3 separate regions of the Homo sapiens genome follow, and all the other regions are linked to region 2. Evidence: fine-mapped expression QTL. A gene starts in region 2. Each other region holds a variant in brackets. All regions are shown on one strand. Distances are from middle to middle. Region 1 has its middle 13 kb from the start of GPIHBP1. Region 2 holds the start of GLI4 (GLI family zinc finger 4). Region 3 has its middle 8.6 kb from the start of ZFP41.

What was found.
Region 1: its variant is fine-mapped to the expression of GLI4 in atrial appendage (GTEx, PIP above 0.99).
Region 3: its variant is fine-mapped to the expression of GLI4 in whole blood (TOPMed, PIP 0.94).

What each region holds. Positions count from the first base shown.
Region 1 is chr8:143,225,086-143,227,838 of GRCh38, reverse strand. No RefSeq gene overlaps it. Among named protein-coding and RNA genes, the nearest start is that of GPIHBP1, 13 kb to the right of the region's middle. The variant C/T (reference allele first, on the strand shown) is at 1,374.
Region 2 is chr8:143,266,230-143,268,982 of GRCh38, reverse strand. It overlaps GLI4 (GLI family zinc finger 4), which reads right to left and starts at 1,538. Exons shown (of 4, transcript NM_138465.4): 1 at 1,499-1,538. RefSeq lists an enhancer at 1-522 and silencers at 1,083-1,202, 1,363-2,072.
Region 3 is chr8:143,236,944-143,239,696 of GRCh38, reverse strand. No RefSeq gene overlaps it. Among named protein-coding and RNA genes, the nearest start is that of ZFP41, 8.6 kb to the left of the region's middle. The variant C/T (reference allele first, on the strand shown) is at 1,669.

The sequences.
Region 1 (2,753 bases), 41 kb after region 2:
AGTGCTGAGGAAACAGCAGCGCAGGGCAGGGGTGGGGCCCAGGGCAGGGGTGGGGCCCAGGTATTCTGGTGCCACTGGGCCAGGTCCCATGGGTCCAGCAGGGGATGGAGCCTGAGGTCAGACCTGGGTGCCGGTGGTCCTGCTGCTGGCCAGGTCGTGGTGACAGCTGAGTCTGGAGGAGGCAGAGGCACCATATGGAATTAACTAGAAGCTCAGGTCAGTGGCGCGTGGTGCTCGCCGGCACTGTCCGTGGTTCTGAAGGAGACCGAGTGGGTAGGCATGTCTTGCCTGGGGTGCAGAGGGTCCTGGAGTCTTGTGGGGCTCAGACACAAGGTCAGAGCCCAGGTGCCAGCAGGCAACCTCTGGCCTGGCTGTTAGGTGGCCTGGGGCTGACCCCACACTCATTCCTGTCATATCGCTCATCCTCACATCCTCCCAGGCATGACGGCACTTCTCTCATGGCACTGGCCTCTCTGTGCCAGCACAGTCACCTCCATAAATTAAAATCCTGTGGATGCAAAGTCACACACAGCCCCTTCCTCTCTGCAGATTCTCTTTCACTGCAGTCTCTGTCTCTTTCTTTTATTTATTTATTTTTAATTTTAATTTAATTTAATTTTATTTTTTTGAGAGGGTCTCAGTCTGTTGCCCAGGCTGGAGTGCAGTGGTGCAATCCTCACTCAGTGCAGCTTCAACCTCCTGGGCTCAATCGATCCTCCCACTTCAGCCTCCTGAGTAGCTGGAACTACAGGCCTGCGCCACTATGCTCGGCTAATTTTTTTTTTTATTTTGTAGAAATGGTGTCTCACTATGTTGCCCAGGCTGGTCTGGAACTCCCAGGCTCAAGTGGTCCTCCTGCCTTGGCCTCTCAAAGTGCTGGGATTACACGTGTGAGCCACCACGCCCGGCCACTGCAGTCTTAACAACAACTTCAGAACCTTCTTCAGAGAGCTGTGCCTGCACCGGCCTGCCCTTCAGGAGCTTCCCACCAACTGGGACACTGGGCAGGACCCCAGGCGGCAGCAACATAAAACTGTGAGCTGATGGGTGCAGGACAGAAGGAGCCTGGGGGTCAGAGAAGGATGGAGAGGGCAGGGCAGTCAGGATGCTCACTGGAGGACAGAGGAAGCAGGCAGAGCCCAGAATTTGGAAAACCCTGGGAGAGGCAGCCCTGTGCTCCGGAGCCGAGAAAGCTCCTTGAATCCTGGCTCCAACAGGTCTCCTCACAGCCTCCGCATTTTGCAGAATGGAGTGCAACAGCAACCTCACAAGTTGTGTGGGATTGCATGAGACCGTCACAAAGACCCAGCCTGGGCCTGGGACGGGGGAGCCAAGGTGAGGGGTGCTAAGTCCATACAACGATGGGGCAGGAG[C/T]GTGCTGCGGGGCGGGGCACTGGCCTGCAAGTTGGGGGCCCCCACGTCGTGTTGTGAGGAAAGTTGCATCACTTGTGCAACCTTTGTGAAAACAAAAAGCTGAGTCCTTTCCTCTGCCTGGGCCTCAGTTTCCTCATTCAGAACAGGAGGGGCTTTTGGGTCAGGAAGGTCTAAAGCATGGGGCTTGGGCTGGGGAGAGAAGTCCAGGGCAGAGGTGGGGCTGGAGTATGGAAAGGCCCTCGGGGCCCTTCATACATATTCCCAAAGCACCCAGGAGGGACTTCAGGGGGACCAACTGCATGTGGGGAGGCGCAGGATGCAGGGGGCCAGGCAGCTGGGCACCCCCTCCTCCAGGCAGGCCTCCCTGTACCACACGGCTGTCTCCGCTTGTGCCTGTGTTTACCAGCCTGGGCTTTGTGGGGTCTGGGATGTTCTCACTAAGATGCGTCTCCCCCAGCCCCAGCCCCACTTCCCACATAGTGCCTGGCACAGAGTTCTGGGAAGGTTTGTGGAATGAACCCGGGAATGACTCACGGGCACCGCAGTAGGGGAAGCTGGGGGCAAGGGGGGCCTCCCTCAGGGCCATGCTGTCTCCTACCACCACCTCCTTGCTCCTGCGGCTGACATCCCAGATCCCGGACCTGGGCGCCCACTCACCTTGGTCCAGCATGGAGCACCCTGCCCAGCACCCCAAGGCCTGCTGGGCTGCGGGGGGCTCCCAGTCTCTCCTGGAAGCCCCACCCCTTCCCAGTTGCTTCTGCGCTGCCTTCCCGCCCTTCTTTCCCTGACTTCAGTGCTCAGTGGAGCGTCACCTCCCTGGAGGCCTCCTGCAAGCCCCAGACAGGAGAGCAGGGGCCTAGTTGCTGTGGGGATTCAGCCACATACATCTTTTCTTTTATTGACATTGACTCTTCATTACAGAATTAGCATGCCTGCCGAGAAGATCCAAATGAAAGAGCAGTACCTCAAGTGAGAAGCAGCGCCCTCCCCACTGCTGTCTCTGAAAGCAATTCCCAGGAGTTTGCTCCCGCTTCCAGACAGTTTTCTCTGCCTATGCAAAAGCACATGTTGAAAACAACAATTTGTTAAAAAAAAAAAAAAAAAAAAAAAGGACTGAGCCTGGTCGCTCATGCCTGTAATCCCAGCACTTTGGGAGGTGAGACAGGAGGATCACCTGAGGTCAGGAGTTCGAGACCAGCCTGGCCAACAGGGTAAAACCCCAACTCTACCAAAAAACAAAAAAACAAAAATTAGCCCGGCGTGTTGGTGCACGCCTGTAGTCCCAGCTACTCGGGAGGCTGAGGCAGGAGACTTGCTTGAACCCAGAAGGCAGAGGTTGCAGTGACCCGAGGTCACGCCACTGCACTCAGCCTGCGTAAC
Region 2 (2,753 bases):
AATCCCAGCTACTTGGGAAGCTGAGGCAGGAGAACAGCTTGAAATCAGGAGGTGGAGGTTGCAGTGAGCCGAGATGGCGCCCCTGCACTCCAGCCTGGGAGACACAGCAAGACTCAAACAACAGCAGCAGCAGCAGCAGCAGCAAAGGAGTAACGCCTTGGAAGGCGCGCTTAGGAAGCAGCCACCGCCTGGGCGGCACAGCAGACGCCTGTGGGGGCTGAAGCGAAGCTCCTGTCCCAGCAGAGGCTCTGGCATCTCCTTCCAGCCCGTGGCATCACCCCTCCCCCAGAGAAAGGCATAGGGAGTCTTCCAGAAAAACCTCAGCTGCTGGCCCTGTGGGAGGGCTGAAAACCGAACCATGCCTGCTGCGCATGAGTGTTTTGGAGGAAATCTTAATAAGGTTTTTCCCGAACAGCAGAGAAGAGACGTTTCCAGAGGGCAACTCTCTTCCTCAGACCCTACAGAGCCCTCAGAGACTGCAGGCTGGAATCCCCTAGTCCAGCCCTGCAGCAGCACTGGGAGACTCACTCAGGGCTCCAAGACACTTCTTAGTTTACTTTGCAAAAACGGCTTGAGTCCAATGTGAAAAGTGACTTTTCTTTCATACTGTGATAGAGTAGGAACTCCTAATCTGGGGCAGGGAGTGAAGAAAGGAACGGGAAAAGAGGACAAAAGTTAACGGATACTCAGATCTAAGAACAGCAGACAGTGCCTGCTTCGAGGAAGTGGGAGAGGCAGCTCCCACACGGCCGCCACCCCAGTGCCCGGCTTCTGGGCCAGCCTCCATCCCCTAATGATGGGAAGGGTCAGGTCACCAGGTAGGTGGCCACTGGGTGCAGGTCCTCCACCCTGAAGTCACATCTCAAGTTACTTAGTTAACTTACTGGGGACACCTGGTAAAAGGGCCTGCTCGATCACCCCGACCCTGGCTTGGCCCCCAGGACTGAGCAGAGGCGACCATCACAGCGTGGACGCCCCTTCACCCCCAGGGACGCACAAACTCTGAGCTCCAGACTGAAGGGGGAAGGGCACTCCTGCCAGCGGCTCGGGGGAAGCATCCTCTGCCCCTCTGTTCCCAGCCCCGTGGGAGCGGACCCAATCGCCGGGAGCTCGGCACAGAGCGCGTCCGCCCGGCGGTGCGGCGCTGGGGTCCGGCGGCTCCTCGCTCCGGAGCGGCGGGACCTCCGGGCCTCAGTTTCCCATCTGCAGAGTGGCGATGACGACAGCTGCCGTCACTGGGTGCCTGGGAAAGGCGCCCTGCGAACGGACACCCGCTATCGCCAGGGCCGCTGGGCGGGGCGGTCCGCTGCTGCTCCGCGACCCCCAGGAGCCCACCCCGCTCCCCGGGCTTGGCCCAAGGCCAAGGTCACGGCGAGCGGCGGCTGCAAGGGCCGCACGGCCCGGCTGGGCAGGGCTGCACCGCGGAGTACGGCGCACGAGCTCGGACTGGGCTGGTCCCAGGCACCCGGAGCCGCCGCCGCCGCCCGCGCCCACTCACCTTCCGAGCGGGAGGAGGACGCCGCGCGCCGGACGGAAGTGTCCGGCCCCGCCCCACTCCGCCCGGCCGGCGCGCACTTCCGGGACGCTCTGGGCCCCGGGAGGACCGCACGCCTCGGTGGCCGTGTGGGGGCGGGGCCGGGAGCGAAGAGGAGGCCTTTCCCCGCCCCTCCCCTCGTGGGCTGCGCCCGCGCGTGGCTTTCGCGTACACGCTGGCCCGGATCCCGCCCGCGCCTGCAAAGCGCCCGGGCGCGGGGAGCGGCGCTGCGTGGGGCGCAGAAGCCGGCGCCTCGGAGCCTCCTTCCCGACGCCGGCCCTGCACCGCCCGGGGAGCCAGCGCGGGGCCGGGCTTCGGGAGATGACGGCGCCGTCCCCACGCTGCCCGCGGCCCCTCCGTGCACTCCAGGCCTCCGGGGGTCCTCGGCTGGAGTTGCTTCCACGTTCAGCTCGCGAGTCCCCCCCGCCGCCCTCTTGGGTTCCCTCCTCGGGATGTGTCCGCAGCGATGGTCACCGGCGGCCGGGAACCGCTGCGAGACGCGCGACCTCCCGCTCCCCTCGCGGGGGCCCCAGCGCCCTCGATTCTGCCTGCTTTCCAGGGGCGTCCCCGGGAGCCTGAGGAGGATGTTACAGGTTCCCCAAAGCCCCTTCATGGACTCCTTCCTCATTTTCCTCTTGTTCAGCCACAGTTTCTCCCTCAGTTCTGTGCTTACGACCTGAAAAGAGAAAATTGTCACTTTCTGGGAAAAATAAACGGCCGGGGAGGGTTCTTTGACCGTTTTGAGCAGGGGTGCAGAGAGCCGAGGCGAGGGGACCCCTGAGCTGGAGGGGCACGCGGAGCAGAGGGCGGGGGGGCCTGCAGACGGGCAACAGCTGCCAGGGTGGACGCTCAGGGCTGTGTGGGTGGAGGAGCCCCCAGGCTGATAATATGTAAAAATCTCTAAACTCTACCGCAAGAAAACAAACATTCCAGTTAGAAAATTGGCAAGAGCCGCAACAGACGTTTGACCGAAGAGGGCACAGGGATGGCAATAGGCTCGGGAAGGGATGGCTGTCAGGGAAGGGCCGGCCAGCATCGCGGTGGGTGCCACTGCACACTTGCCAGGTGGCTCAGGTAAAAACTGCTAACAAGTGCCAAGCATCACTGAGGTCGCGGAGCAGCTTGGGACATCGCCAGTGGTAAGGCAAAGTGGTGCTGCCATTCTAGAAATTGGCTTGGTAGTTTCTTAAAAAGTTATAAGTAGCGCCGGGCGCAGTGG
Region 3 (2,753 bases), 29 kb after region 2:
GCAGGAGAATCGCTTGAACCCAGGAGGCCGAGGTTGCAGTGAGCTGAGAATGTGCCACTGTACTCCAGCCTGGGCGATAGAGCAAGACTCTGTCTAAAGAAGAAAAAAAAGTGAGTTTTGATCCCAAGGACATTCCAGTCATACTAATGGATCCGTCAGGGTTGCATCAGAGGAACAGAGCCCACAGAGACAGGTGTGTAGACGCAGGCCTGCGCTTTGCTTTGTTCCAGGGCTTGGACCTCCCAGGACTGTGGGGCCTGCTGAGCGGTGTGCTGGAGCCTGGATCCACAGGCAGGCGCCCAGAGTCTCGGACAGCAGGTGGGATGGAGCCAAGGCAGGCGGGTCTGGGTCTGGATTCCAACCCCTGCACCCCACTGCTGATGTGGGCAAGCTCCTCAACTTCAGATGCCCTCAGCGTTCCCACCCGCACGATGTTCAGATGCCCTCAGTGTTCCCTCCTGCACAATGTTCAGATGCCCTCAGCGTTCCCTCCTGCACAATGTTCAGATGCCCTCAGCGGTCCCTCCTGCATGACGGGGTAGGAACAGGATCTCATGGGATCTTCAATGAAGACCAAATGGTGTGAAGATGGAGGATGCCCAGGATGGTGTGGGGCATGGCAGGGCCTAGGGAGTGCCCAGGTCTTCCCTGCCTGGCGGGACAGCTGCTACCTTGGTTTTCACGCCCTTTATGGCATTGGTTCCTAAACCTGCTCATAATCAGAATCAGTTTGGAATCTTTTTAAGAAAAAAAAAAAAAAAAAAAGGGATTTCCAGACATCATCCAAGAGCTGGTCAAACAGAATGCCATTGGGGTTAAGCCTCATAACCTGTAATTTTAGAAGCTTCCCAGTGACTCTGATGATCAGGCAGGGCCTGAGTGGCAGCAGATGGCACAAGCTCCCTGGTGCAGTGGGGCACAGCTCGGGCTGTTCATTTGAAACTCCTAAGAGCTTGGAGAAATGCTGACCAGTCCCCCACCTCTAAGAGATCCCACTGTAGCTGGGGTAGGGGCAGAGGGGCTGGCATCTAGCATCAGCGTTTTGAAAAATCACCCCCAGATGATTCTTGTGTGTGGCCGGGGTCCAGAATCTCTGTTTTGGAGCACAGGCGAGGAGACCGCGTGAACAAGTGAACCGGTGAGGCTTTTGCATGCAGAGCAAGCAAGAGACACAAAAATGTCAGGCCACTAAGCAGAATCATTCTTCCATGAAACCCCAGCTCCTTACCTGTGAGCACATTCCTTAATTATATGTCACACCAATTTAATTGGAAAAATTAACACCCGCCCCTCGGGCTTATAATCTATGACAAGACATTGGTGGTAAATCCATTTATTCTCCAATTACGTAATCTTTCCCATGTTCACCCACTAACGGACTCACTCAGAGGTAACTTATCCAGGGTGGCACAGGCTGGGCAGTAGAGGAAGCTCCCTTCCAGCATAAACCCACTCTCTGAGCTAATTCTAGAACTTACATGGACATACCAAAAGGCTGCAGTTTGTCCAGCTCTTCCACGCTACATTTAAAAGTCCTTTCTCAGGATCATTGCAAGGTTTCTTTTTTCTTTCTTTTTTTGAGACAGGGTCTCGCTCTGTCACGTAGGGTGGAGTGCAGTGGCTCCATCTCTGCTCACTGCAGCTTCAACCTCCCTGGGTCAAGCGATC[C/T]TCCTGCCCCAGCCTCCTGAGTCGCTGGGACCATGGGCGTGCAACGGCATGCCTGGCTAATTTTTTCATTTTTTTTTTTTTTGTAGAGACGAGGCCTTGCTATGTTGCCCAGGCTGATCTCGAAACCCTGGGCTCAAGCCGTCTGCCTGTCTCGGCCTCCCAAAGCATGGGATTACAGGCGTGAGCAGTACACCTGGCCAGGGCTTCTTCCTGTGCAAATTATCTGTGTGGATTCTCTGGTGTTGGTAACAGGTTACCTAGACCTGAACGTTTCTGTGAGTTCATTGCACTCACTGGGTGAATGTTCTCCCCTTGGGATTTCACGGGGTTTCTCTGCAGGATGAATCTCCTTACGTGGACTGGGGTCTGAGCCCCTCCTAGGGCACTGCCCACCCATCACATCAGGGTTCTTTCCAGGATGAAGTTTATGATGTTAAGTAAGGCAGGGCAGGCAAGAGGAGCGGGCCCCAGGTAGGGTATAAGGGCATCTGCCGGCCTCAGGCCAGCCCTGGGAAGCAGGTGCATGGCCTGGCTTGGAGAGTCCCCACTTCTCACTGCCCATTCAGTTGAACTCCTAGAAGGGGAAGCCGAGGAGCTGGGTCCGGGGTGGGCAGAGTCCTCTCACCCCACCGCTGGTCCACCTAGAGCAATGGCTGCTGGGTGCCCAAGGAGGCCCCTGTCGAGCTGGTCTTCTGGGAAGCCAGAGAGGAGGATGTGAGGGCTCTGGGACCCGTGGGTCCTAACTAGGGGTGAGGATTCTACTTTAGGGTCGTCAGAAGCCAGTTCTGATGGTCAAAATGAAAATGAAAATGGAAAGACACCATTCACAACATCAAAGGCATAAAGTAACTTGGAGTAAACCCAACAAAACATATGGAGGATCTTCATGGGGAAAATTATACAGTGTTTTTGTGAGACATTAAACAAGACCCAAATAAATGGTGATAAAGCCCAGGCTCGTGAATTGCCTGACTTAATATTTTTAAAATATCAGCTCTCAATTTCACCTTACAGATGCAATGCAATTCCGGTCAAAATCCTAGCAAGACTTTTGTAAACTTGAAAAGCTAGGCTGGGCATGGTGG